Linked DNA regions of Homo sapiens: regions 2 and 3 are each linked to region 1. The links come from fine-mapping of genetic effects on gene expression. A gene starts in region 1. Each other region holds a variant in brackets. All regions are shown on one strand. Distances are between the middles of the regions.

Region 1 (8,171 bases):
TTTTTTGTTTTTAAAGAGATGAAGGATAGAAGGATGAAGGATGAAGATAAAAGGACTGGCAGGGGCCGGGTGCAGTGGCTCATGCCTGTAATCCCAGCACTTTGAGAGGCTGAGGCAGGCAGATCACTTGAAGTCAGGAGTTCAAGACCAGCCTGGCCAACATGATGAAACCCTGTCTCTACAAAAAATACAAAAATACAAAAATTAGCTGGGCCTGGTGGTGCCTGCCTGCAATCCCAGCTACTCAGGATGCTGAGGCAGGAGAACTGCTTGAACCTGGGAGGCAGAGGTTGCAGTGAGCTGAGATCACGCCACTGTGCTCCATCCTGGGCGACAGAGGAGACTTCGTCTCAAAGAAAAAAAAAGAAAAGGACTGTCAGGCAGGAGGGATAATTTTTTGCTCTCTTTTTTTTTGAGACAGTCTCACTCTATTGCCCAGGCTGGAGTGCAATCGCACGATCTCGGCTCACTGCAACCTCTGCCTCCTGGGTTCAAGCGATTCTCCTGCCTCAGCCTCCTGAGTAGCTGGGATTACAGGCGCTCACCACCACGCCTGGCTAATTTTGCATTTTTAAGTAGAGACCGGTTTCACTGTGTGGGCAAGGCTAGTCTCGAACTCCTGACCTTGTGATCCGCCTGCTTCCGCCTCCCAAAGTGTTGGGATTACAGGCATAAGCCACCTTGCCCGGCCTAATTTTTTGCTCTCTAATTTTACACTTTCTACAATGTTTCCTTTTTCCCACTATGGGCTCCTATTGCCTTTTCTATTTTTTAAATGAACAGCGATCACCTGGGATTATGGGCCATTTTTTGTTTGTTTGTTTGTTTTGAGATGGAGTTTTGCTCTTGTTGCTCAGGCTGGAGTGCAATGGCGTGATCTTGGCTCACCGCAACCTCCACCTCCCAGGTTCAAGCGATTCTCCTGCTTCAGCCTCCTGAGTAGCTGGGATTACAGGCATGTGCCACCATGGCCAGCTGATTTTATATGTTTAATAGAGACAGGGTATCTCCATGTTGGTGAGGCTGCTCTCAAACTCCTGACCTCAGGCGATCGGCCCAACTTGGCCTCCCAAAGTGCTGAGATTACAGGTGTAAGCCACCACGCCTGGCCTTTTTTTCTTTTAATGTTGCGGTATATTAAAAAGTTATTTAAGGCCGGGCGCGGTGGCTTACGCCTGTAATCCCAGCACTTTGGGAGGCTGAGAGGGGCAGATCACGAGGTCAGGAGATCGAGACCATCTTGGCTAACACAGTGAAACCCCATCTCTACTAAAAATACAAAAAATTAGCCGGGCGTGATGGCAGGCGCCTGTGGTCCCAGCTACTCGGGAGGCCGAGGCAGGAGAATGGCGTGAACCCAGGAGGAGGAGCTTGCAGTGAGCCGAGATCTCGCCACTGCACTCCAGCCTGGGTGACAGAGCGAGACTCTGTCTCAAAATAAATAAATAAATAAATAAAAATAATAAAAAGTTATTTATACTAACGGGTCTGGCGTGGCAGTTCATGCCTGTAATCCTAACACTTTGGGAGGCAGGAGGATCACTTGAGCCCAGGAGTTCAAGACTAGCCTGGGCAACATGGCAAAACCCCCTTTCTAAAAAAAAAATAGAAAATTAGCTGTGCATGGTGCTGCGCGCTTGTAGTCCCAGCTACTCAGAAGGCTGAGGTGGGAGGATCACTTGAGCCTGGGAGGTCGAGTCTGCAGTGAGCCTCCATCTCCCAGTGATTGCACCACTGCACTCCAGCCTGGGTGACAGAGCAAGACTCTGCCTCAAAAAAAGAAAAAAAAAAAGTTACTAACAGCTGGGCACAGTGGCTTACACCTGTAATCCCAACGCTTTGGGAGGCTGAAGTGTGAGGGTCACTTGAGTCCAGGAGTTTGAGACCAGCCTGGGCAACATATGGTGAGATCCCATCTCTACAAATTAAAAAACATATTATTAAAGAAAAAAAGAATTTGGTCAACTTAGTTTAAAAAAAAGAAAAAAAAAGAGAAAAAAGTTACTTTTTTCTATTTTATTTCTTATTTATGAATGTAGTGTCATTTTAATATAATTAAAAGCATATTAATCTGACACCAAAGGGGAAACTCCCTTGCCTCAAGGAAGAATGGGGATGCCAAATGACCCTGGACCCCGGAAACCCTGTCCAGGAGCCCCCACAAAGATGGGCCCAGTCTAACTTCAGAGGAAAGGAGTGAACTCTGATTAGAAGCTTAAGAGCTGAGTTTGAGTTCTGTCTGCCACAGCTAGCACTGTGGGAAGATCGCCTAAGAAAACTAAACCCCAAATCCCAGTTCATAAAATAAAGCTGAGACATCTCTCGCACAGTTCTCCTTGTGCCTCTGCTCACACAGACCCAGACAGTTTTCCTCAAATGCCACTTTTTTTTTTTTTTTTTGAGACAGGGTCTCACTCTGTCCCCAGGCTGGAGTGTGGTGGCGCCATCATGACTCACTGCAACCTCCACCTCCTGGGCTCAGGCAATCCTCCCACCTCAGGCTCCTGAGTAGCTGGGACTACAGGTGCACGCCACCATGCCTGGCTAACTTTTTTTATTATTTGCAGAGACGAGGTCTCACTATGTTGCCCAGGCTGGTCTCAAACTCCTGGGCTCAGGCGATCCTCCTGCCTTGGCTTCCCAAAGTGCTGGGATTACAGCTGTGAGCCAATGCACCCAGCCTCAACTGCCACTTCTGACCTTGGCTTCCCCCGGGCTGGGCCACAGCTCTTCTGTGGCAGCTCTGCTCTTCCTACCAGCGTTTCCTTGTCACCTTGACACACCCATTCCCTCCCTGCCCGCTCCCTGCTCAGAATCCTCTCTGTAGCCCCTTCAAGAGAACTCAAGGTTCTCTTGAACTACAAACTCCAGCAGGGGGTCCCTGGAGCCCAGGTTAAGGCTGCCGGCAGTCGCATACGGATCCCCAGGGGAAGGGGCGCCCTCCTCACTCAAAGCTCACCTGTTCAGGTGAGAGCCTCAAAGCGCCACTCTACAGCTCCCCTGGTTAGGTCAGTTCTCCCCACAGCCAAGGCCCAGCGTGTCCACCAATCGTCCAGCCGGAACAAACTAAGACACACTTTCTTTGGCAAGATAGAATTTTCCACTTCTCGCCAAATCCCACAGCGCAAACCCCGCCCGTCAGCATGGAGGGCAGACTGGGTCTCCGCACTGTCATGTGAAGGTGTCCAAAGCCGCCCCAGCTGGAGAAAGGCCGGAGACCGAAGTCCCTCCCGCGGGCTTCCTGCGTCCGGGGATTAGGAGGCACAAAGGGCCGGCAGGGACACAGCCCAGATGGCAGGGGCAGGGGCTAAGCCGCCGGGGCACCGCGCTCCGGCCGCCGCCCGTGGGGAGGGGGTCACCGCAGACGCGCGTCGCCAACCCCGCTGGCCTGGCGCCTGCACGTGGGCCCGGGGACTCCGTCTCTGCCCGCGGTGCCCCCCGCACCCAGCCGGCCGGGGCACCTGTTCTCCTGCTCTCCTAAGCCAACATTATTGTGCAAACCCAAGCCCAAGTTTCAGTCATCGCGCAGATCAGGCAGAGAAGTTTCCCGCAGAACTTTCTACAGGTGTCTCTCTTCCAGGCCAGCACAGCGACGCGGACAGGGGCGAGGCGCGCGGACCTGGGCGCAGCCCTCCCGCCCTGGCCCGACAGCCCAGGGGTCCTGGGCCTCCCTGGCCTCCCCGCCCCAGGTGGAAGCCCCGAGGGGGCGGGCCCGGCTGGGCGAGTCCGGCACGCATCTCACCTGGAACCCCGGGCCAGCCCCCGCCCGAGGCCTCGGCGTCCCTCGGCGCCCGCCGCCGGCCCCGCTCGCTCCGCCGCGCCTGCCCACGGGCTGCTGGGCGGCCGTCTCCTTCCTGCTCACCTCCGGCGCGGCGAGCCTGGGGCGGAGCCGCGCTATTTACATAAAGGGCGAGCCTGCCGGGGCCCAGCGCCCCGCCCCCGGCCCGCCCCCCAGCTCGGCGCCGCAGGGGCGGGGGCACCCTCGGGGGTGGGGGCTGCGCTCCTGCCAATCCGCGGCCCCGGGAAGCGCGGGGCGGGGCCTCGCGAACGGCCTCGGGGTTCCGCAGGCCCGCCCCGGCCTCACCTGCGCGCACCTGGACGCAGAACGGCGCGCCGCGCCCAGTGTCCCGCCGCCTCCCGCAAGCGGAAATAGTTCCCGGAACGCCTGCGGTCCCGGGCCGCCTCCCAGACTCCAGGGGAGCCGTCCCTCCAACTCCCGGGAGCTGCCGAGGGAGGGGCGGATCCGGGCCAGCTCCTCTGCCAGAGCCCAGCCCAGAGAGGGTGACCGGGGGACGCAGGGCCGGGTTTCCAGCCCCACGAGAGGGATGGTGTAGGGACCGGGGCGTCGCGGCGAGACGCCTTTCCTCGGGGGGGGGTGCGGGGGGGCGCCCACCTCCTCCGTGTCGGCCGGAGGGTCTGCAACAGCGGGTGGAATTTTTAGCACAAGCGAGGGAGGAGGTTGGAGCGACGAGAGGCGGGAGCGGAAAGGGCGCGGAGGCCGGGGCTGCAGCGCGCTCCACCGCCCAGCTGCAGGTGGCGCCTCTCGCCACCCGCACCCCGCTGCGCCCAGGGAAGGGCCGATGGCGCGCCGTCCTCCCTCCTCCCTTCGGGAAGCCTGCGACGTCCCATCCCCTCCGACGCAGGCCCGGGAAAGGCTCAAAAGGTTCGAGGTCGCGTTCCTGCTATCCCGCGGGCTTCTCTCACTCTTAGATCCCGCACCAGAGGAAGCGGATCTCCTTGAGTGGGCAAAGCAGGGGTGAGGGGCTGGGGGCAGTTCCACTGACAACGGGACGGGGGCGAGAGGGGTTTACCCAGTACATACAGAAACAGCAGAAAAGAAATCTATTTTTAATGGCTTTGGCTTTATAGCACGAAGCAGGCACCCTCTCGTTAAAGGCACACAGTCCTCTCTTCTGCCCCACCTCCTGGGTCCTTAAAATCGAGTCCTGAGTTCCAGAGGGGTCACTGCAAGGCAGCAGGGAAGGGAGAGGGTCACAGTTTCACTCTGTGAGTATCAGACACCCAGGGCCAAGGCCCAGACTGGCCTCTGAAGCTACAGGTTAGAGTCTGGGTACAGGAGGCAGCCGAGATGGTCCCTGAGAACAGACAGTCCCGGTCCCCCGGAGCAAGCTCCATCCTCTGCAGAGCTGTGAGGTCAGTGCCCCACATCCTGGGGCAACGTGAAGTCCCTGAAGCTGTAGAAGGAGATGTCACCATGATCCACCAGGGCAAAGATCAGAGGGACATCCCCACTCTGGTAAGACAACCGCTTGAGGCTGCAGAGGTCTGGGACAGGCTCATCAAATCTGCAGGGACAAAGGGTTAGAGTGAGACCCAGCCATAGCCCACTCCTAAGCTCTAGGGCTCCCAGAGAAGAGATTCTACGGAAGGAGTTGGGGTGCAAGAATTCTGACCCATGAGTTCTGTCTCCAAAACACAGGGCTCTGATGAAGAGCGCCCCAGAGCACTGGTTGGGGAGGTGCTAGGAAGAGCAAGGTGCTCACCACTCTTAGCCTGTAAATCCCCACAATCCACATCCCTTCTGCTGGGTGAGTCCTAGACTAAAATGGCATTGGAGAAAGACTACCCTAAAATGCCAGCAACGAGGAGCTCAGAGTAGGGCAGCACAAACTGGCTGTGTGGCCTTGTGTAGGTCACTTAGCCTCTCTGGACCTCCTGTTCCTCTCAGAGATTGGCACGCTGGCCAGGGGAGTACAGAGGAGTCCCACTTGGTTCACAGGAGAACTGGCAGCAGCTGGGGGAGGGGCAGTGCTGGCTCACTGCGTACCCACTAATGCACATCCGGGCATAGGGTTTGCCAGGGTTATTCTTTCGGAATGTGGCCACAGCGTCGGCCTGGTAAACATCAAAGATGATTTCCAAGCCCCCAGACTTCTCCAACAGCCTGACAATACAATGAGAAACGTTATGACATGAACTCTTCTCCCCAACCTTTCTTTTCCATCCCACCCTTTCCCTCCACCAGTTCCAGGAAGCAGCCTCACAGAGGTGCCACTTGAGGGTTGGGGGCTCTGAACCCTTGGGCTAACCCACTGGTTATTCTCCCTCTTCCCTAGACACACACGAACACTAGTTATTGCTCAGAGCTAGGCGTAGGGGTAGGAGTCCCTGGAACAGTCCTCTAGTTTACACCCTACTTCAGGAGCCAGTTCCTAACCACCAACTCCTGGCGGTCAAGGTACTGCAGAGACGGCACTGCTTGGAAACTTACCGGGCACCTCCATCAGGAAGGTGTGTTGTCTGCAGCACAGAGATATGCTGAAGGACCACGGCTACAAGGACACAGAAAACAAGGTACTGGGGAGGGGAGTCACATTTCTCAGTCTGCCATCTAGTTTAGGACGGCCAGATTTAGCAACTTTTTTTTTTAAACGGAGTCTCACTCTGTCACCCAGGCTGGAGTATAGTGGCGTGATCTTGGCTCACTGTGACCTCTGCCTCCCAGGTTCAAGCAATTCTCCTGTCTCAGCCTCCTGAGTAGCTGGGATTATAAGTGTGCACCACCACACCCGGCTAATTTTTGTATTTTTAGTAGAGATGGTTTCACCATGTTGCCCAGGTTGGTCTCGAACTCCTGACCTCAGGTGATCTGCCCGCCTCGGCCTCCCAAAGTGCTGGGATTACGGGTATGAGCCACCGTGTCCAGCCTAGCAACATTTTTTTTTTTTTTTTAGTATAAGCATATCCCATGCAATTTTTGGAACATATACTGAAAAATTATACTGAAAGTCAAATCAAACTGATCTGGCAACCCTATCTAGTTACCTACAATCTACCGTGTTCCCATAAAGGCTTTAAGTAATTTGGAATCCGTTAACACATTTAGCTTATTCTTTCCCCATTGGTTCCCTGGGCTTAGAGCAGACAGCAAGCCTTTCTTTCACTTGGCCAAGAAGGCACCTCCTTTTCCCATCTAACAGGTTGGGATCACAGCTAGTTGGTGGCAAAGCCATCCACATGCATGTTGTTTATCTTTTTAAGGATATGGTCATAGTTTCCACCCCTCCTTACCTCTCCTGACTCACCATCTCTAAGCCTTCCCACACAGGCCCTGCTGCAGCCGCCGGAGAACTGACCGTGCTTGTGGGTCCACTCCCTCCTCCCACATCTTCCTTAAGCCTCAATCCATCCCAGTTCATCCATGCCCTTTCCAAAGTCCTGTGATTCCTCAGCTGCCAGTGGCCCTCGAAGATGTGGCAGGCTGAGGGGGTACCTGGGGAGCTGGCCTGGCCAGGACTCAGCAGCGGGGTGACGGGCTGGCCCCACAGGTGAGGGGCCCGGCGCTGGCTCCTCTGCACCTGCCGCCGCTGCAGCAGCTCCTTGTACTCCCGCCAGCTGGAGCACCGCTGCACCTCGGGATCGGCGTTGACATCTTCCTGGAACTGCGCGGCCTCCGCGTGGTGCTCCCGTTCCCGCCTGGAGAGCTTCTCCTTGCGCTGGTTCAGCTTCTGGCACCAGGACTCAGCGTCTGTCTCCCGCCCAGCCACGTTGGCCGGGAGCAGCTCTGGGGCTGGGGCGCGCAGAAGGGTGTGGCGGCTGTCTGAAGCCATGTTGGGGAAGGAGATCTGCTCGAAGTTCCAGCGCCGCTTACCGGCTCCCGTGACTCCGTTCTCGGCTCTGCCACTCTCCCAGCTGCACCCCACCCCCTCCCTGGCCGGGCCAGGGCTGGGGCCCAGGGACCCCAGAAGCTGAAAGGGGCCCCCTGGGCCCTTCATGGGGCTTGACTCCTGGGGTTTCTCCTCTGGGCATTGGCTGGGCTGGCTGCAGGGAGGTGGGCTGGAGGCTGCCAGACTCTTGGGTTGCAGGGAGTTGTCCAGGGCCTTGGCCTTCTTATTAATGGACCTGAGGGACGTGGGGGAAAAGCAGCACATCTGCCCCTGGTTGCTAAGGTGCACACGTCCCATGGGAGCTGAAGGCAGGTCCCCTAGTGTCTCCCTGAGCCTGCATGGGAGCTGCTGGTTCTTAGAAAGCCTGTGCATTTTCCAAGGTCCCAGACACCAGCACTCCCTGGGGGGCCACCGTGATGTGGGAGTTACCGAGGGCTGGAGCTGCTCCTCTTTCTCTTGCCATCTCCATCCTCCAAGTGCTGCACGCTGGCATCCAGGTTAAGCTGCCTCTCATACGGGGACAGGACAGAGCTGTGGGGTGAG
Region 2 (8,171 bases), 50 kb before region 1:
TGGGAGGCTGAGGCGGGCGGATCACAAGGTCAGGAGTTCGAGACCAGCCTGGCCAACATGGTAAAACCCCATCTCTACTAAAAATACAAAAATTAGCTAGGCATGGTGGCATGCACCTGTAGTCCCAGCTACTCAGAAGGCTGAGGCAGGAGAATCGCTTGAACCCGGGAGACGTAGGTGGCAGGGAGCCAAAATCACTGCCACTGCACTCCAGCCTGGGCGACAGAGCGAGACTGTCTAAAAAAAAAAACCCAGTAGCTTAAGGACACATAACCACTAAATATGGACTTGAGGACCAAGCCCAGGCCCTCTGGCCTTTAATACCCACTTTTCTGCTGAACCCACACTGTGGAGCTCCGCAGCGCTTCTGCTGGAATCAGCTTTGGAACCAGACAGCCTTGGTCCCCCATCCCAGCTGCAGTGCTCCACCCTCCTGGCTCTATGACCTTGAACAACCTTCAGGGAACAGCTTGGCTAATCTTGACATGCAGGGAGACAGGCCACACCCCCGAGCCTGGCTCTCCCCTCTGCTTCCCACTTTCCCACTGACTTCCTTTGCCTGCTTCGCTCACCAGTGTATAGTGAGCTCCTCCCTGGGGCTGTGTGCCGCGCCCTCTCTGGACTTCCTTCCACACTCCCTCCCTCTGGAGCCATCTCCTTCTCTCCTGGCCTCACCCACCATCCACAGTAACTTTCACCTCCTAGGGTTGGGTGTTTACTAGGAATCAGGTGCTGTGTGATTTTACAGGCTCTCATTTAATCCTTTACAACCCTCTGAGGTAAGTCCTATTATTATCCTTCACTTTACAGATAAGTAAACCAAGGTATGGGAGTGAGGTCATGTACCCAAGGTCACACAGCCAGTCACGTGAAAGCCAGTGTACAGGGTTGGATCTGCCTGGCCTCAAATGCTAAATGAACACCAGGTCTCCACCACTTTGAATGCCCAAGACCCTCACATCTCAATCTGCAGACTGGCAGGGTGTGGCAGCTCATGCCTATGATCCCAGCACTTTGGGAGGCTGAGGCAGGAGTATCCTTTGAGACCAGGAGTTTGAGACCAGCCTGGGGCAATATAGGGAGTCCCTGTCTCTACAAAAAATTTAAAAATAAAAAAGTAGGACAGGCGCGGTGGCTCACGCCTGTAATCCCAGCACTTTGGGAGGCCGAGGCAGGCGGATCACAAGGTCAGGAGTTTGAGTCCAGCTTGGCCAACATGGTGAAACCCTGTCTCTACTAAAAATACAAAAATGAGCTGGGCGTGGTGGCTAACGCCTGTAATCCTAGCTACTCGGGAGGCTGAGGCAGGAGAATTGCTTGAACCTAGGAGGCGGTGATTGCAGTGTGCCGAGATCATGCCACTGCACTCTGGCCTGGGCGACAGAATGAGGCTGTCTTGAAAAAAAATAATAATTAGCTGAGCATGGTGGCGCCCACCTGTGGTCCCAGCTACAAGTTTGCTCCAACCCAAGAGTTCAGGCTACAGTGAGCTATGATCACACCACTGCACTCCAGCCTGGGCAACAGAGCAAGACTCTGTCTCTAAAATAAATCAATTTCCGTGGCCAGGCTCAGTGGCTTATGACTGTAATCCTAGCACTTTGGATGACTGAGGCTGGAGGATTGCTTGAGCCTCGGAGGTCAAGGTTGCAGTGAGCCATGATCTCATGCCACTGTACTCCAGTCTAGGTGACAGAGTGACACCCTGTCTCTAAAAAACAAATAAAATAAATCTCCTGACCACAAATCCAGTTGCCTGCTGTATACCTCCCTGGCCCTTGGAGGCAACAGGTAGCCCTCACGCTCACTCATCTCCTCCCATCTGGCAGCCATCCTTGTCAACCCAACCCCTCAATGCCTCTATTTCCCTACCACCGTCGCCTTGCCCTGGATGGCTGTGGGGATCCCAGCTTCCTCCAGTTCATTTTTTTTTTTTTTTTGAGACGGAGTCTTGCTCTGTCCCCAGGCTGGAATGGAGTGGCATGATCTCGGCTCACTGCAGCCTCCGCCTCCCGGATTCAAGAGATTCTCCTGCCTCAGCCTCCCGAGTGGCTGGAATTACAGGCACACGCCACCACACCTAGCTAATTTTTGTATTTTTAGTAGAGACGGGGTTTCACCATGTTGTCCAGGCTAGTCTTGATCTCCTGACCTTGTGATCCGCCTGTCTCGGCCTCCCAAAGTGCTGGGATTACAGGCATGAGCCACCGCTCCCGGCCCCTCCAGTTCACTTTCTAGAGAGGAAGATGCCACGTCCTTCCATCTTGCACACCCATCAATACAAATTGTTGTTCATCTCACACTCCCAGTGGGAATATTTTTCTTTTTTTTTTTTTTTTTTTGAGACAGAGTCTCACTCTGTCGCCCAGGCTGGAGTGGGGTGGCATGATCTCGGCTCACTGCAAGCTCTGCCTCCTGGGTTCACCCCACTGTCCTGCCTCAGCCTCCTGAGTAGCTGGGACTACAGGCGCCCGCCACTATGCCTGGCTAATTTTTTGTATTTTTAGTAGAGATGGGGTTTCACCATGTTAGCCAGGATGGTCTCGATCTCCTGACTTCGTGATCCGCCCGCCTTGGCCTCCCAAAGTGCTGCGATTACAGGCGTGAGCCACCGTGCCCGGCCGAGAATGTTTCCTTAAACTGAAATATGCACACCGACATTAGCTAATACTTCAAAGCACAGCATACTTACAGCAAAGCTCAAAGTTCAGCACTAATCAGCAAGGAAATAAGTTCATGTTCGGAGTCTTCCTGATATTTTCAGGGCTGTGTGTTTTCGACTTCTTGTTCAATTTCATCAGCAAGACCTGTGCTGTGGCCACCAGGCTCCTCTGTGCCACAGAAGTGCAGGTTCTGCCGTTTTTTTCTGATTCACTGGTACTTGCATCATCACCATTATCTTTTTTTTTTTTGAGATGGAGTCCCGTTCTGTTGCCCGGTCTGGAGTGCAGTGGTGCGATCTTGGCTCACTGCAACCTCTGCCTCCCAGGTTTGTGATTCTCCCACCTCAGCCTCCTGAGTAGCTGGGGTTACAGATGCCCGCCACCACGCCCGGCTAATTTTTGTATTTTTAGAAGAAACAGGGTTTGACCATGTTGGCCAGGCTGGTCTCGAACTCCTGACCTCCAGTGATCTGTCTGCCTTGGCCTCCCAAAGTGCTGGGACTACAGGCGCGCGCCACCACGCCCAGCTAATTTTTGCATTTTTAGTAGAGACAGGGTTTCACCATGTTGACCAGGCTCGTTTTGAACTCCTGACTTCAAGTAATCTGCCCCACCTCAGCCTCCCAAAGTGTTGGGATTACAGGCGTGAGCCACTGCGCCCAGCCACCTTTATGGCATATGTTCTTTATGGCAGTATGGGAAGGGACTGATACAGGTGTCTCACCAGGTATCCCCCACCCCTGTGGCTGGTCTCTGCCAGGCATCATCCCTTCCCTGCTTCTTCTAGCATGGTGTTCCTCTCCCTTTGGGGAACTGCTCCCCTACATTCCTCATAGTTCTCGAGGTGCTCATCTCAGAAGTCTTTCTGCACCCTCCCCTGGGGAAACAAGGGACGGTCAAGTGGCCATCTCGAGGTGGACATGGCCAGATGGAACACCTGTACCCAGCTCCTCTGGATGGGCCTTTCCTCGCTCACGCAGAGCAGGCGCCTGTCACACCTGGCCCTCACTGGGCCTCCCTAGTCTGGCCTCACTTTCGGCCCTGCCTGCCAGCCACCTTCCGCTCTCCACTGCCTCCCACGGCAAGCGAGTTCCTGGAGTGGCGGTGAGCCCTCTTGTCCTCTGTCTGGAACAATCTGCTTGCTTACCACACTCTCTGGCAATTCCTGGTTCTCTCTCAGGTCACCCCCCAGGTGCATTTCTCACCAGTGTCAACTGTGGCAGGAACCACAGTTGTCTCAGACACCGGAGAACCCCACGCACTGGCCATACAGTAGGTGCTCAACGAAGACGAGTCAATAAAGATCCAGCCCATGTCCAATCTAAATAACCCAGCCCCTCCCCTGGGGAAGGCCTTTCTCCTTGGGTACCAGCCCCGCTTCAGCAGCACCCCACAGTCCTCCCTGGTGTCTGGAGGAAGCCATCAGGTCTGAGATATTGTGGGTGTCCTTCTTCTGACAGTAGGGAAAGGCCAGCCAGGGGCGGCCAGGACCCAGGGAAAAAGTCAGGCAGACTCAAGATGGTTCGTGCTTGCCATGTGTTCCCACAGAGGGAAGGCACCGCCGGGCTCAGACAAAACGAAGCAGTTTGATTCACACGGCTCCCCAAGTGGATTCTCCTGACACCGGCCCAGGCCAGGGCTGGAGCCTCGGGGGACAGGCAGGGTACCGGCTCCCACTTTCCATTCACATGGAAAATTTCTACACAATTAAAATATTAAAGTAGTGGACCAGTCAAGAGGTAATAGGTGTTTATTAAAAACTTTTTCACCCAGAGGCAGTTAACATTTATAACTTAAAACCCAGCCCACTACAAAAAGGGATGGGAGCAATAAAAACTGTGCAACATTGACCAAAGGACCCAGACAGACGAGGCCCGGGAAGGGCAGCCCAGGGGACTGGGGTCTCTCCTCTCCCGAGGCCCAGAGCAGCTGCATTGTGGAAGCCGGGATGCCCCCAGCCCCTGGCGGGGCCCTGTGCACCGGCCTCTCCGGTTGGGGCAGGGACCCCCGAAAGGCCATCAGTAGTAGTGTGTGCTCATCGCGCAGCCTGGACGCTCAGCCACTCACTCTGCTGAAGGACACAGAGGGACAGCTCAAGATCACCCTGGGCAGGACGGGGTGCCCCAGCCGCCCACGCTGAGCCCAGACATGGTGCTTTCCTGGTCATCAGGGCACGTGTCAGCCCCGTGGGACCCAGGGGAGTGGGGCCGGGGCTCTTCCTCCCAGCCCTTCCCAGCACGGTTGGCAG[C/T]TGCACTCAAGCCCAGAGCCCCCACCTCCGCCATTGCTGAGGCTGCACCCCACGGCGGCTCGATGTGAACGCCAGTTGCCGCTCCTGCACAGGCAAAGACAGGGGAGTCATGGCCTCAGGGACCTCCACTCTCAGCGCTCCCCTGAGCCCTCTGGCAGAGCCTCGGGCCCACCCCAGCTGGCCTGGGCGGTGCCTCACCCGCGGTCTCCCTCCAGTGTGCTCTGGATTTCCTTCAGGACTCCTGCAGGCCGGGTGGGAACAGAGGCCCACTGAGGCCCTTGGGGCGGCTAGCCACAGCCCTTCCACCCCCTTTCTCCGTGGGTGCCCATGGATCTGTACCCCGCCTCAGGGCAGTGGCCTGCCCAGCCTCCCTTGACCCTGACCCCCCTTCCCCACCCCTCCTGCCAGCCCCACCCTCTCCCACCCAACTCACTCTCATCACTGAGCAGAGCGCGCTCCATCACCAGGCCGGGCTGCTTCTCTGGAAGGTAGAGGCCGGGTCAGGGCGCCCCGCCTGGGCCCTCCTCGGCCTGGCTCTCTCTCTCCTTACTGAGGTCAGGATGTGGAAGCCCAGGGCCCAGGGCTGGAAGGAATGCCGTCTCTATTCCCAGCCCAAACACTACCTGCTCACTCGGGACCCTTCCCTCCCGTCCAGCCCCAGGTCTGGGCCGGGTGTGGCCCAGGTGTGCATGAGCCCAGGAGGCCTGTCTTACCCTCGCCATCACTCTGAGTCCCTGAGTTCCTGTGGGGGAAGAGACAGTGAGGACCAGGGCCCCCGGGCTCCCTGCCCGGCTCTGAGAGCCCTGGTCCCATGAAGAACAAGTCAATGGCGCAGCCTGTCCTGAGCCGGAGAGCCTGGGAGGTAAACTGAGTCCTGCCCTGGACTGCCAGCTTGCACAGGGGCAAGGGGCACGCAAAGAGGCAAGGAGAGCCGGAGCCTGGGAGGGTGGGCTGAGCTCGTGGGGAGGTGCCTCCAGCCAGGCAGCAGTGGGAGCCTCGGTATCTCAGAGAGGGCAGGGAGGGGCGGGAGGGGCGGGAGAGGCCTCTGGCCCTTTCACTCACCTGGCTCGGCTCGGGGCCTTCTTGGGGCCCGCACCGTTACCAGGGCGGTGGTTCTTGGTTTCTGCTGAATCCACCAGACACCGGGGCTCCACCAGCCACTTGGTGGAGAGAGAGAAGCGCTCAAACTCCGAGGGTGAGATCAGGTAGAAGCCTGGGGAGTGGGGGCAATGCTAGCGGCCTGGCCTGGCGGCTGCCAAGGCTGCCTCCCCACCTGGGGGAGTAGGGGCTAGTGCTCCCTCGCAGTTCTCCGCTTAAGGCCCATCCAGTCTGGCCGTGGCCACAACACCCCTGGCCACCCTTCCCGTCCGTGCAGTGCCCGGGGCCCCGACACCCACCCAGCCCGGCTCAAACACCTTGGCCATATTTGGTGAAGACGCAGGAGGCGATGCCACTGACGTCCTCCCGGCGGATGCAGCTGTAGCGCACCTGGGGCTTGAGCAGGGGCAGCGAGACCACCTGGATGTCGCCCAGGTTGGTAAGGACTGCCAGGTGGTGCTCCCCGTAGTCCTCGGCTCGACGACTGCCGAAGTGGGCCACGCTGACCCGCCGCACTCTTGAGCCCTCCAGGGCCGTCAGCTTCAACTTCAGCTTGGCACTCACCTTGGGCAGCGTGAACACCTGGGGGCGTGGGGTGGTTGTTCATGCCCATGGCCAAACCAGTTCTCCTGCCCTGTGCTGCTGCTGCTGGGCCCTCCCCTCCCCACATGCCTCCCGGTGTCCTGACAAACCCTTGGCTCTCAGATGCACAGACATGGCCTGGGAGGATGCCGAGGTCACCGACTTCCCTATCTGGATTTTTTTTTTTTTCCTCCGAGATGGAGTCTTGCTCTGTCGCCCAGGCTGGAGTACAGTGGTGTGATCTCGGCTCACTGCAACCTCCGCCTCAGGCAATTCTTCTGCCTCAGCCTCCCGAGTAGAGCTGGGATTACAGGCGTCCACCACCATGCTGGTTTTTTTTTTTTTTTTTGAGACGGAATCTCGCTCTGTCGCCCAGGCTGGAGGGCAGTGGCACAATCTCGGCTCACTGCAAGCTCCGCCTCCTGGGTTCACGCCATTCTCCTGCCTCAGCCTCCTGAGTAGCTGGGACTACAGGTGCCCGCCACCACGCCTAACTAATTTTTTTGCATTTGTTTGTAGAGACGGGGTTTCACCGTGTTAGCCAGGATGGTCTCGATCTCCTGACCTTGTGATCTGCCCGCCTCGGCCTCCCAAAGTGCTGGGATTACAGGCATGAGCCACCGCGCCTGGCCCATGCCGGGCTATTTTTTTTTGTATTTTTAGTAGTCAGGGTTTCACCATATTGGCCAGGCTGATCTCGAACTCCTGCCCTTGTGATCTGGCCTCCCAAAGTGCTGGCATTACAGGCATGAGTCACCGCGCCTGGCCCCCTGTCCTGCCTCAGTGTCCTCACACGAGACTCCCCCCTCACTTATTTCCTGTACTTCTGCAGCCCCTCAGACACCAACTGCAAACAAGACTGAGTCCCAGCCATCATTTTTGCCCAAGGTCCGAGCCTCCTGGATGTCCCGGGGAGTCCCAGGGAGACCCGCCGCTGCCCGTGTGGCACCTTGAACTGCTCCTCTGATACGACGAGCAGCTGGTGGCTTCCCTGCATGTCAGGGCTCTTCGACAGATCATGGGCCACTTCGAGGGGCTCGGGAAGGGGTACGCTGTGTCCGTCGAGCACCAGGATGCCCACCACCGGCGCCCGGTGCATCAGCTGGATCTCCTTGGCTAGGGGGAGGAGGTGGGTGTTGGGGCTGGTGAGGGGGTGGCAGGGCTGGAGCCACTCCCTGGACCCAGCCCAGGCAGCCCGAGCACCCTCTGCTCTCCCTGCCCAGCACTCACCCTGCTCTGCCCGCACAGGCTCATCCATTCTCCGCTCGGCGGGAGGCACACGCAGGGAGAAGGCATAGATGGTGCCCCCATTGGTGCCAGCCCACAGCGAGGGGCAGTGCCGGGAGCCTGCCGAGAAGCCATGTTTGGGTGTCTGACCCTTAGCGTGGGAGTCGGGTGGAGCTGGGCAACCAGGGTTTACTCCCAGGTTTTCCCTCCTGGGAGAGGCTGGAAGGCTCTCTGACAACCACACAGGCCCCAACATAGAAGACCCCAATCCCAGGTCAGCTCAGCCCTTGCTGTGATACAGCAGGGGAGAACCAGCCAGGGAGAGACACGTCATCTGGAGACCAGCAGGCTCT
Region 3 (8,171 bases), 35 kb before region 1:
TGGCACAGCCTCAACAGCCACAGGCCGGCAATCAAAGTCACCACTCAGTCAAGGTCCCCAGGAGCAGGGGAGACTGGACCCCATCTCCTTCCAACTGCTACAGCCCAGGAGGACTTGGAGGTAAGGTGAGGGCATCCAGGCTGGGGGCTCTGAGTCTCAGCAGCCACTCCTGCCTCATGCTGGGTGCCCCCACCAATTCTGTTTGAACATCACCCAGAGTGATTTTGTCTGAAGAAACAGGGCTGCCAACTAAAGGAGTTTAAGACCTGCTGCTCAGTACCGTCTCTCTGGGAAGGTGGAAGAAAGGAGCAAGAATGAACTTGGCAGGAATTGGGCCGCTGAGAGACGTGAATAGCGTCTACCCTGTCTCCCCTCCCTGGTGTCCAAGACCCCAACACGGGACCTGAGAGTGTTCACTGGCACCAACTTCCCAGGCAGAGGCCTAAGTGACCTTTCTAGCCCTCCAGGAAGGCTCTGGAGAGGAAAGAGGACCAGCATGGATACCTACCCCTGCCTAGTGGTCAGCCAGAGGATTCTGGTAATCGCTTTGCAAGGAAAGGGACCTGAAAGGAAAGGAATCGGCTTGAACGGATCCTCAAACTCTCAGACAAGTGTCAGTCCCCACAGGCACAGATCCCTCTAGCTCATGCCACATCCACATGGTAGACCTGTGCTTGGGAATCTTGCTCCGAGAAGTTCCCCAAGAAACTGGGTGAGGCGAACCCTGCTGTGTGGCTTTGGACAAAGCCTTTACCCTCTCTGGCCCTGGAGTTTGCTTCAGAATTGAGCAACCTGCACCTGAATCCAGGAGGCACTGGGGGTGGGCCCTGCCCGGCGGGTGAAACACTGACCGTAAGGCACGAGGCTGCGGAGGGGCTCTGGTTGCTGGGCTTCGCTGGACACGGGCCACTGGCAGTAGCTGCCGTCAGAGTGACAGCTGACGAGCAGGCGGCCGTCCCGCTGCCACCAGATGTTCTCCAGTTGCTATGGAGGAAGAGGAGAGGGACAGAGGGCAGCACGCTGGACCGAGGCGGCGTTCCCATCGCCTGCACCCCATGCCTCTGCACAGTGTGTATGTGCCACTTGGGGCCCTGGGAGAGCAACATGGCGCCTGCCATGTCCTGGGCACTGCCTACCTGGCTGCTGAGGAAGTGGTAGAGCACGCGGCTGCCCTGTAGGTCCCAGATGACAACGAGGCCTCGGCTGTAGCCGATCAGGATCTGGTTGGGGTCTCGAGGGTGCTCCTGCAGTGCCTCCACCATCTCGAACACACGCCGGTGGCGGGCCTCCTCTGGCAACCTGGGCGAGGGGAGTGCCGTGAGCCTCCGATGCCGTCCACCAGGGGGAATGGCCCCCAGCATGGCACAGCCATGGGGCTCCCTATGCAGAGGTGGCTGCTCCATGTGCCAGCATAGAAATATGGCTAGGGGCTGGGCGCAGTGGATGGCCGAGCGTGGTGGCTCATGCCTGTAATCCCAGCACTTTGGGAGCCCAAGGTGGGCAGGCCACTTGAGGTCAGGAGTTTGAGAGCAGCCTGGCCAACATGGCAAAACCCTGTCTCTACTAAAAATATAAAACATTAGCTGGGCGTGGTGGCACATGGCTATAACCCCAGCTACTTGGGAGGCGGAGGCGGGAGAATTGCTTGAACCCAGGAGGCGGAGGTTGCAGTGAGCCGAGATCGTGCCACTGCACTCCAGCCTGGGTGACAGAGTGAGACTCCATTTCCAAAAAAAAAGAAAGAAAGATGGCTAGGACATGTCACCAAGGGGAGAAGGGCAGCATGTAGAACAAGACAGAGACATGGACACAACCTCCAGTGATGTAAACACAGGCGGTACAATTATAAGGCAAGGCAAGGCAGTGACTTCTGGAAAAGTCAATGTGGGGGCAAGAGGGAGCCTTGACTAGGAAGGGTGCATAAGACCTCCGGAGGGCATCAAAGTTCTATTTCTATGCCCGGCAGGAAGGCTGCAAGGATGCTCTACAAGAATCTGTTAAACTGTACATTCATATTCAGTGCATTTTTGCAAAAGGGAGTGTTTAATAATAAAGAAGTTTTTTAGCCCCATAAAACAAAACTCTGTGTGAGTTGGCCTGGCCCTGGAGCCTTGACCCCTGCCCCGTCTCCAGGCCTGGAATGCTGCCGTGAGGGCTGGAGGTGTTGCAGCCAACAAAAAAACCACAAGGCAGCAGGCACAGGACCAACAGCCAACAGCAAGGATGTGGGAAGTGGACCCAGCCTGGACCCAAGCCACACTAAACCCAAGCTCTCCACATTATCTATATCTGGCACATCTACTGCTAGCACTGACCTCACTGACATTAGAATTTGAATCAAGAGTGAGAGTTGAAGGGGACTTTAATATTCAATATTTAATTTTTTTTTTTTGAGATGGGAGTCTCGCTCTGTTGCCCAGGCTGGAGTGCAGTGGTGTGACCTCGGCTCACCACAACCTCCACCTCCGGGGTTCAAGCAATTCTCCCTGCTCAGCCTCCCGAGTATCAGGGATTACAGGCACCCACAACCATGCCAGGCTAATTTTTTATACTTTTAGTAGAGACGGGGTTTCGCCATGTTGCCCAAGCTGGTCTCGAACTCCTGATCTCAGGTGATCCACCCGCCTCCGCCTCCCAAAGTGCTGGGATCACAGGCGTGAGCCACCGCGCCCGGCCTAATTTTTAATCTTTTTAGAGACAGGATCTCATTCTGTCACCCAGGCTGGAGGGTAGTGACCTGATCATGGCTCACTGCAGCCTCCAACTCCTGGGCTCAAGTGATCCTCCCACCTCCCAAGTAGCTGAGACTGCAGACGTGTGCCGCCTTGCCCAACTAATTTTTATTTTTTGTGAGGAGAGACAGGGTCTTGCTATGTTGCCCAGGCTAGTCTCAAATTCCTGGCCTCAAGCAATCCTCCTACCTCAGCCTCCCAAAGTGTGAGCAACTGTGTCCATCTAGATATTCTTAATAAATGCAAATAATGTCCTTACACAGATGAAAATTGTTAGACAATTAGAGGGCTTCCAACTTTTTGCCATTAAAAACAGCCCTACAATGATCATTCTTATCCTATATCTTTAGGACAGAGACTTCTCAGAGACAG[T/AGT]TATGAGACTAAAGGGTTGCACGTTTTAAAAACTTAGATAAGTGTCATCAAGAGGACGAGAATTTAAACTGCCAAAAGGGGCTGGGCCTGGTGGCTCACACCTGTAATCCCAGCACTTTGGGAGACCGAGGTGGGTGGATCACCTGAGGTCAGGAGTTCAAGACCAGCCTGGCCAACATGGTGAAACCCCGTCTCTACTAAAAATACAAAAATAAGCCGGGTGTGATGGCGTGCACCTGTAATCCCAGCTACTCGGAAGGCTGAGGCAGGAGAATCACTTGAACCCAGGAAGCAGAGGTTGCAGTGAGCTGAGATCTTGCCACTGCACTTCGGCCTGGGACAGAGTAAGACTCTCTCAAAAAAAATGTTTTTTCTTTGTTTTTTTTTTTTTTTTTTTTTTTTTTTTTTAATAAATAAACAAACTGGGCCAGGCGCTGTGGCTCATGCCTGTAATCCCAGCACTCTGGGAGGCTGAGGCGGGTCAATCACCTGAGGTCGGGAGTTCGAGACTAGTTTGACCACCATGGAGAAACCCTGTCTCTACTAAAAATACAAAATTAGCTGGGTGTGGTAGCGCATGCCTGTAATCCCAGCTACTCGGGAGGCTGAGGCAGGAGAATAGCTTGAACCCAGGAAGCAGAGGTTGCAGTGAGCCAAGATCGTGCCATTGCACTCTAGCCTGGGGAACAAGAGTGAAACTCCATCTCAAAAATGAAATAAAATATAATATAATATAATATAAATAAACTGGCAGGAGGGGCTCTCAGGGCACTTGGGCCCCCCCGCCGACTAGATTCCCGCCAGCTAACTACAGGGTGAGGCTGGGCACTGGTGTGGCCACCTGCTGGGGCGCAGGTCCCATGCCGTCCTGCCCACAGGCTGTGTCCCACTGTGGTACCTGTCATCCTGCAAAGTGTTCTGCTCTGACCTTGGACACACTGCCCCAGCCCTACCCTGCTGAACGGGAAAGGCAGAGGTCTGCACTCAGAGGGACACAGCTCCAAGTGGGAATCCTCCCAGCCCAGTCATGCCCTGCCCTGGGCAGACGGGCCCTGCTTCATCACCACCCAGGGCTGGAGAGCTGGGCTGGCCAGCTGCAGGAGTGTGTCCCAGGCCCAGTCCAAAGCCTTGCAGGGCCAGGGGCCCAGCACCCTGGCCTCCTCCTGCCCCTTGGAACCACAGATCATTCCACCATGACCGACCCGGCCCCAACATGATCTTGTCAGATGCTATCTCCTCTCTTTTTTTGGGCCCCGTCCCCTTCTCCCACCCGGACCTGATCCAACTCCCTCTCTAATGTAGTATCATCAACAAGGAGCAAAGCTTCTGAAACGATCTCAACAGACCCACATGCCTGTGGCGGTCAAGGCTTTTTAGCCACGGAGCTTGCGAGCAAATGGAACCTCAGCAAAGTACCCACCGCAAAGGGTGGCACCAGGAGCTGCCCCAGTGACACAGGGAGGTCTGGGCCCGACTTCCCCGCTGCGGAGCCCCTGGGGTTCTGAAACCCATGGCAAGTGCAAAGGACACTGGACTGACAGTCGGTGACATTACACAGTCATTTGGGGCCTTTAGACGAGGGACCCTCAAAGCCCCCTTTTTAGTGCTATGATGCTAACCTATGACAGGCCAATAGGTTCTCAGTAGGTGACAGGTAGGAAGCCAAGAGCCTCCCCTGCTATAGCCCCATGGAATTCCCAGCAGAGAAATGACAGCTCCTGACAGAGTCCTGGGACCAAGGGGAGAAGCCATGCCTAACTTGAGGGGATGGAGTTAACAGCAGCTGGGCTCTGGGCTCACCGCTGCAGCACCGCGTCCGAGCTGATGGTCCGGTCCTCCAGCGCACGAAAAGCTGGCAGCTGCACCACAAACACGTTGCCACTCTCGGTGCCCAGGTAGAGCAGCTCGCAGGAGGAATGTGGCAGGACCACGGTGATCTGTGTGGCACTGGGGGCAGCCCTGTGACAAGAACAGCTGCCCGTGAGCCGACCACTGCCCAGCAGGGGAGATGCCATGGACGGGGTCCCCTGACTCCTCGGAAAACAAGCCCATAAGGCCCTTTAATGAGGTCATAACATTTCAAGCCAGGACAAACATTGGTCACTTTCTGCCAAGACAGGAGACAGATGGCAGAGAGCCTGGGCTAGGAGGCAGGAAAGACGCCAGGGACCCTCCAGCATAACACGGGGTGCGGATGGAGGAGGCGGGGTGCAGATGGAGGAGGCGGGGTGCGGATGGAGGAGGCGGGGTGCGGATGGAGGAGGCGGGGTGCGGATGGAGGAGGTGGGGTGCGGATGGAGGAGGCGTGGTGTGGATGGAGGAGGTGGGGTGCGGATGGAGGAGGCGGGGTGCGGATGGAGGAGGTGGGGTGCGGATGGAGGAGGCGTGGTGTGGATGGAGGAGGCAGGCTGCAGCCCCGCCCACTCCACTCGGAGCACCTGAGTGTGGCGATGCATCGGGCCAAACGCATGCCAGTCACTGCCAGGGGCGCAACAGGCCTCACAAAGGGTGAGTCCACTCCAGAGCTAAGGGCAAGGGTCAGGCTGGGCTGGGAGTGGAAGGGGCTGGGGATTGAGCCCTTACCCTGGGGGTCCACGCAGTGTGAAGCTCTCATCCTCCTGCAGCTCCGATGCCCCGCCCTTGACCTTCAGGCTCCAAAGGTGCAGGCTGTTGTCATCCAGCAGGGTGACCAGCTGGCACTGGCGAGGGCACACGACGGGATCATGTGGTCTTGCTACCCAGGCAAGGCCTTTACACACTGGGGCCACGCAGCCCCAGTTGTTTAAAAGACCCCCTGGCCACTCCCAGGGTGGCCCATGAGCCCCAGCTGTGGAAAGGGAGGGGGTCCCAGGTCTTTCCATCAGCAGCAAACCCAGGGCCACCGAATGCCAGCCTCTCCACACCAGCCCTGCTGGAAGCAGTGAAGGCAAGGAGGGCATGGAAGTGGCTTCCTGTCCCACCCCAGGTCCCTCACCTGGCCGGGCAGGAGGTGGATCTGCGTCACAGCGTTGTTCTCCTGGTGCAGCCCCATGAACTCCACGCCTGGGGCTCCGTAGCTAGGAGTAGGCTCAGGAAAGCTCTGGAAGGTCGGACACCATCCCCTGCCTGCCTTGAGTGCCAGGCCCTCGGGGCCCATGTGCAATGATGCAAACACAGAGAGGGGCTGCCCTCCCCCGAGGCAGCAGGACCCATGCATGGAGCCTAGGGTGGGGAGGAGACACAGCAGCCCTGGCCCTGGGGCACCAGGCCAGTGACCTGATCCCTGGGAGATTTTTCCCAGTCAGGCCGGTGGGAGCAACTCCATAGAAAGGCGAAGCCCTACCCTGGCAACTGTCAGGCTGCCACCCTGATCCTGAGCTGCAAAAGACATGTTGGCTGTCGCTTGGTAGCACCTGTGAAAAAACACACGGCACCCCAGGGGGCCTATCACCAACAGCCTTGGCCCATTAGTCTTGGCACCAGGGATTGGTAACTAGAGTCTGGCTGTGGCCTGGCAATGATTAACCAGCCGAGGGAAGGCTGAGCCCGCAGCAAGGCCCTGGCCCCCTGTGTACACCAGCCCAGCCTGGAACTCGAGTGCTCCATACCCCTCCCCCACACCGGGCAGAGGGGAAGAGGGAGGTCAGGCTCCGCTGGAGGTGGCAGCCAAGCTATTGGAGGTGGTCCCTCATCTCTCAACTCCCTTGGGCCCTGCCCTGAGGGGAGCACAGATCAGACTGGCGGGGTGCCCAACCTGATCCGGTTTTTCATCTCTGAAAACACTGGGAGCCCCCAGTCGGCCAGAACCAGTGCTCTGGATAAAAGATGACCCAACTGGACAACATCCAGCCTCAGGCCGGGGAAGGACTGTCCCTGCCAGGCAGAGCCCTCTCCACTCTCTGCCGCCTGTGGGAGTGGGGGTGGAATTTGGAAGACAGCTGCCGAGCCCTGCTCTCCTGGCCCAAGGCCACCCCATCTCTGCTTGTGGATAGGGCCCTGGGGCCAGTCCACCTCTGATTCTTATCGAGATAGGTTAAAAAACAAAACTGCAGGCTGGGAGTGCAGTGACTCATGCCTGTAACCCTAGCATTTTGAGAGGCCAAGGCGAGAGAGTTGCTTGAGCCCAGGAGTTCAAGACCAGGCTGGGCAAGATCACAAGACCCTGTCTCCACAAAAAAAAAAAAAAAAAAAAAAAAAGTTTTTGAGACAGAGTCTCACTCTGTTGCCCAGGCTGGAGTGCAGTGGCACAATCTTGGCTCACTGCAACCTCTGCCTCCCAGGTTCAAACGATTCTCCCATCTCAGCCTCCCAAGTAGCTGGGATTACAGGCATGTGCCACCACGCCCTGATAACTTTTAAAATATTTTTAGTAGAGACAGGGTTTTACCACATTGACCAGGCTGGCCTTGAACTCCTGACCTCAAGTGATCTGCCCGCCTCAGCCTCCCAAAGTGCCGAAAAAAATTTTTTTAAATTAAAAACATCCCTAGCGACAAGAGGGGTCCCTGTAACTTGCTTTTCTGGTGGTGAGGTGGGGAGCTGAGGGAGGCAGGGGCACAGAAGGGCCTAGGCCTTGCTACTGGCGCACCAGCCAGCCACTCACTGAATGATCACTGGCTGAGACATGGGCGTCAGGTCCTTCCCTCTGGATCCACCAATACAACCCCTGCAAAACAGGTCTCTGAGCCCCCCAGCAGCCTCACCCCCTGCCCGGGACTGGGGGATTCCTGAAACCTCCAGGAATAGGTGAGAGGGGAAACTGAGTAAAGGGAGCAGACCACATGAAGGGTCCTGAAAGGACACAGGAGACAAAATAAGCCTGTATCTCCTCAGTCCATTTCAAACCTCACTGTCCTCCTGCAAAGGACAGGGTCGCATCCCACCAGGGATGCACTCATGCCCAGGTGCCTGCTCCACCATCAACCATACCTGCCCCATTTTGGAATAAAATCATGTCCAAAACTGGAAATCAGGAAAGTCCCTCATTTTATCCCAACAGCCCACGGGCAAGGAAGGAAAAGATGTCCCTCCCCAAATCTCACCCACCCCAAGGCCCTGCCCGAGTGGGAGCGAGGGGACGGAGGATAC

Alleles and levels. Alleles are on the strand shown, and positions count from the first base shown. SD is a standard deviation of normalised expression in the study named. Not every link is listed here.
As copies of C replace T in region 2, the expression in monocytes of the gene that starts at base 3,871 in region 1 goes up (large effect, 0.90 SD a copy in Schmiedel 2018).

What was found.
Region 2: its variant is fine-mapped to the expression of LLGL2 in monocytes (Schmiedel 2018, PIP 0.95).
Region 3: its variant is fine-mapped to the expression of LLGL2 in whole blood (TOPMed, PIP above 0.99).

What each region holds. Positions count from the first base shown.
Region 1 is chr17:75,521,397-75,529,567 of GRCh38, reverse strand. LLGL2 (LLGL scribble cell polarity complex component 2) reads right to left here and starts at 3,871. Exons shown (of 26, transcript NM_001031803.2): 1 at 3,743-3,871. TSEN54 (tRNA splicing endonuclease subunit 54) reads right to left here. Exons shown (of 11, transcript NM_207346.3): 7 at 8,058-8,159; 8 at 7,235-7,863; 9 at 6,233-6,293; 10 at 5,789-5,905; 11 at 4,833-5,306. The coding sequence ends at 5,156. RefSeq lists silencers at 4,165-4,349, 3,666-4,385, 4,406-4,505.
Region 2 is chr17:75,571,434-75,579,604 of GRCh38, reverse strand. LLGL2 (LLGL scribble cell polarity complex component 2) reads right to left here. Exons shown (of 26, transcript NM_001031803.2): 18 at 7,822-7,938; 19 at 7,541-7,707; 20 at 6,327-6,591; 21 at 5,974-6,124; 22 at 5,625-5,653; 23 at 5,345-5,392; 24 at 5,110-5,152; 25 at 4,937-4,995; 26 at 4,396-4,734. The coding sequence ends at 4,727. Among named protein-coding and RNA genes, the nearest start is that of MYO15B, 12 kb to the left of the region's middle. RefSeq lists an enhancer at 8,066-8,171. The variant C/T (reference allele first, on the strand shown) is at 4,912.
Region 3 is chr17:75,556,144-75,564,314 of GRCh38, reverse strand. LLGL2 (LLGL scribble cell polarity complex component 2) reads right to left here. Exons shown (of 26, transcript NM_001031803.2): 4 at 6,079-6,160; 5 at 5,688-5,803; 6 at 4,905-5,063; 7 at 1,137-1,299; 8 at 852-984; 9 at 509-563. Among named protein-coding and RNA genes, the nearest start is that of MYO15B, 28 kb to the left of the region's middle. RefSeq lists a silencer at 1,833-2,127 and enhancers at 5,524-6,459, 6,460-7,396. The variant T/AGT (reference allele first, on the strand shown) is at 3,105.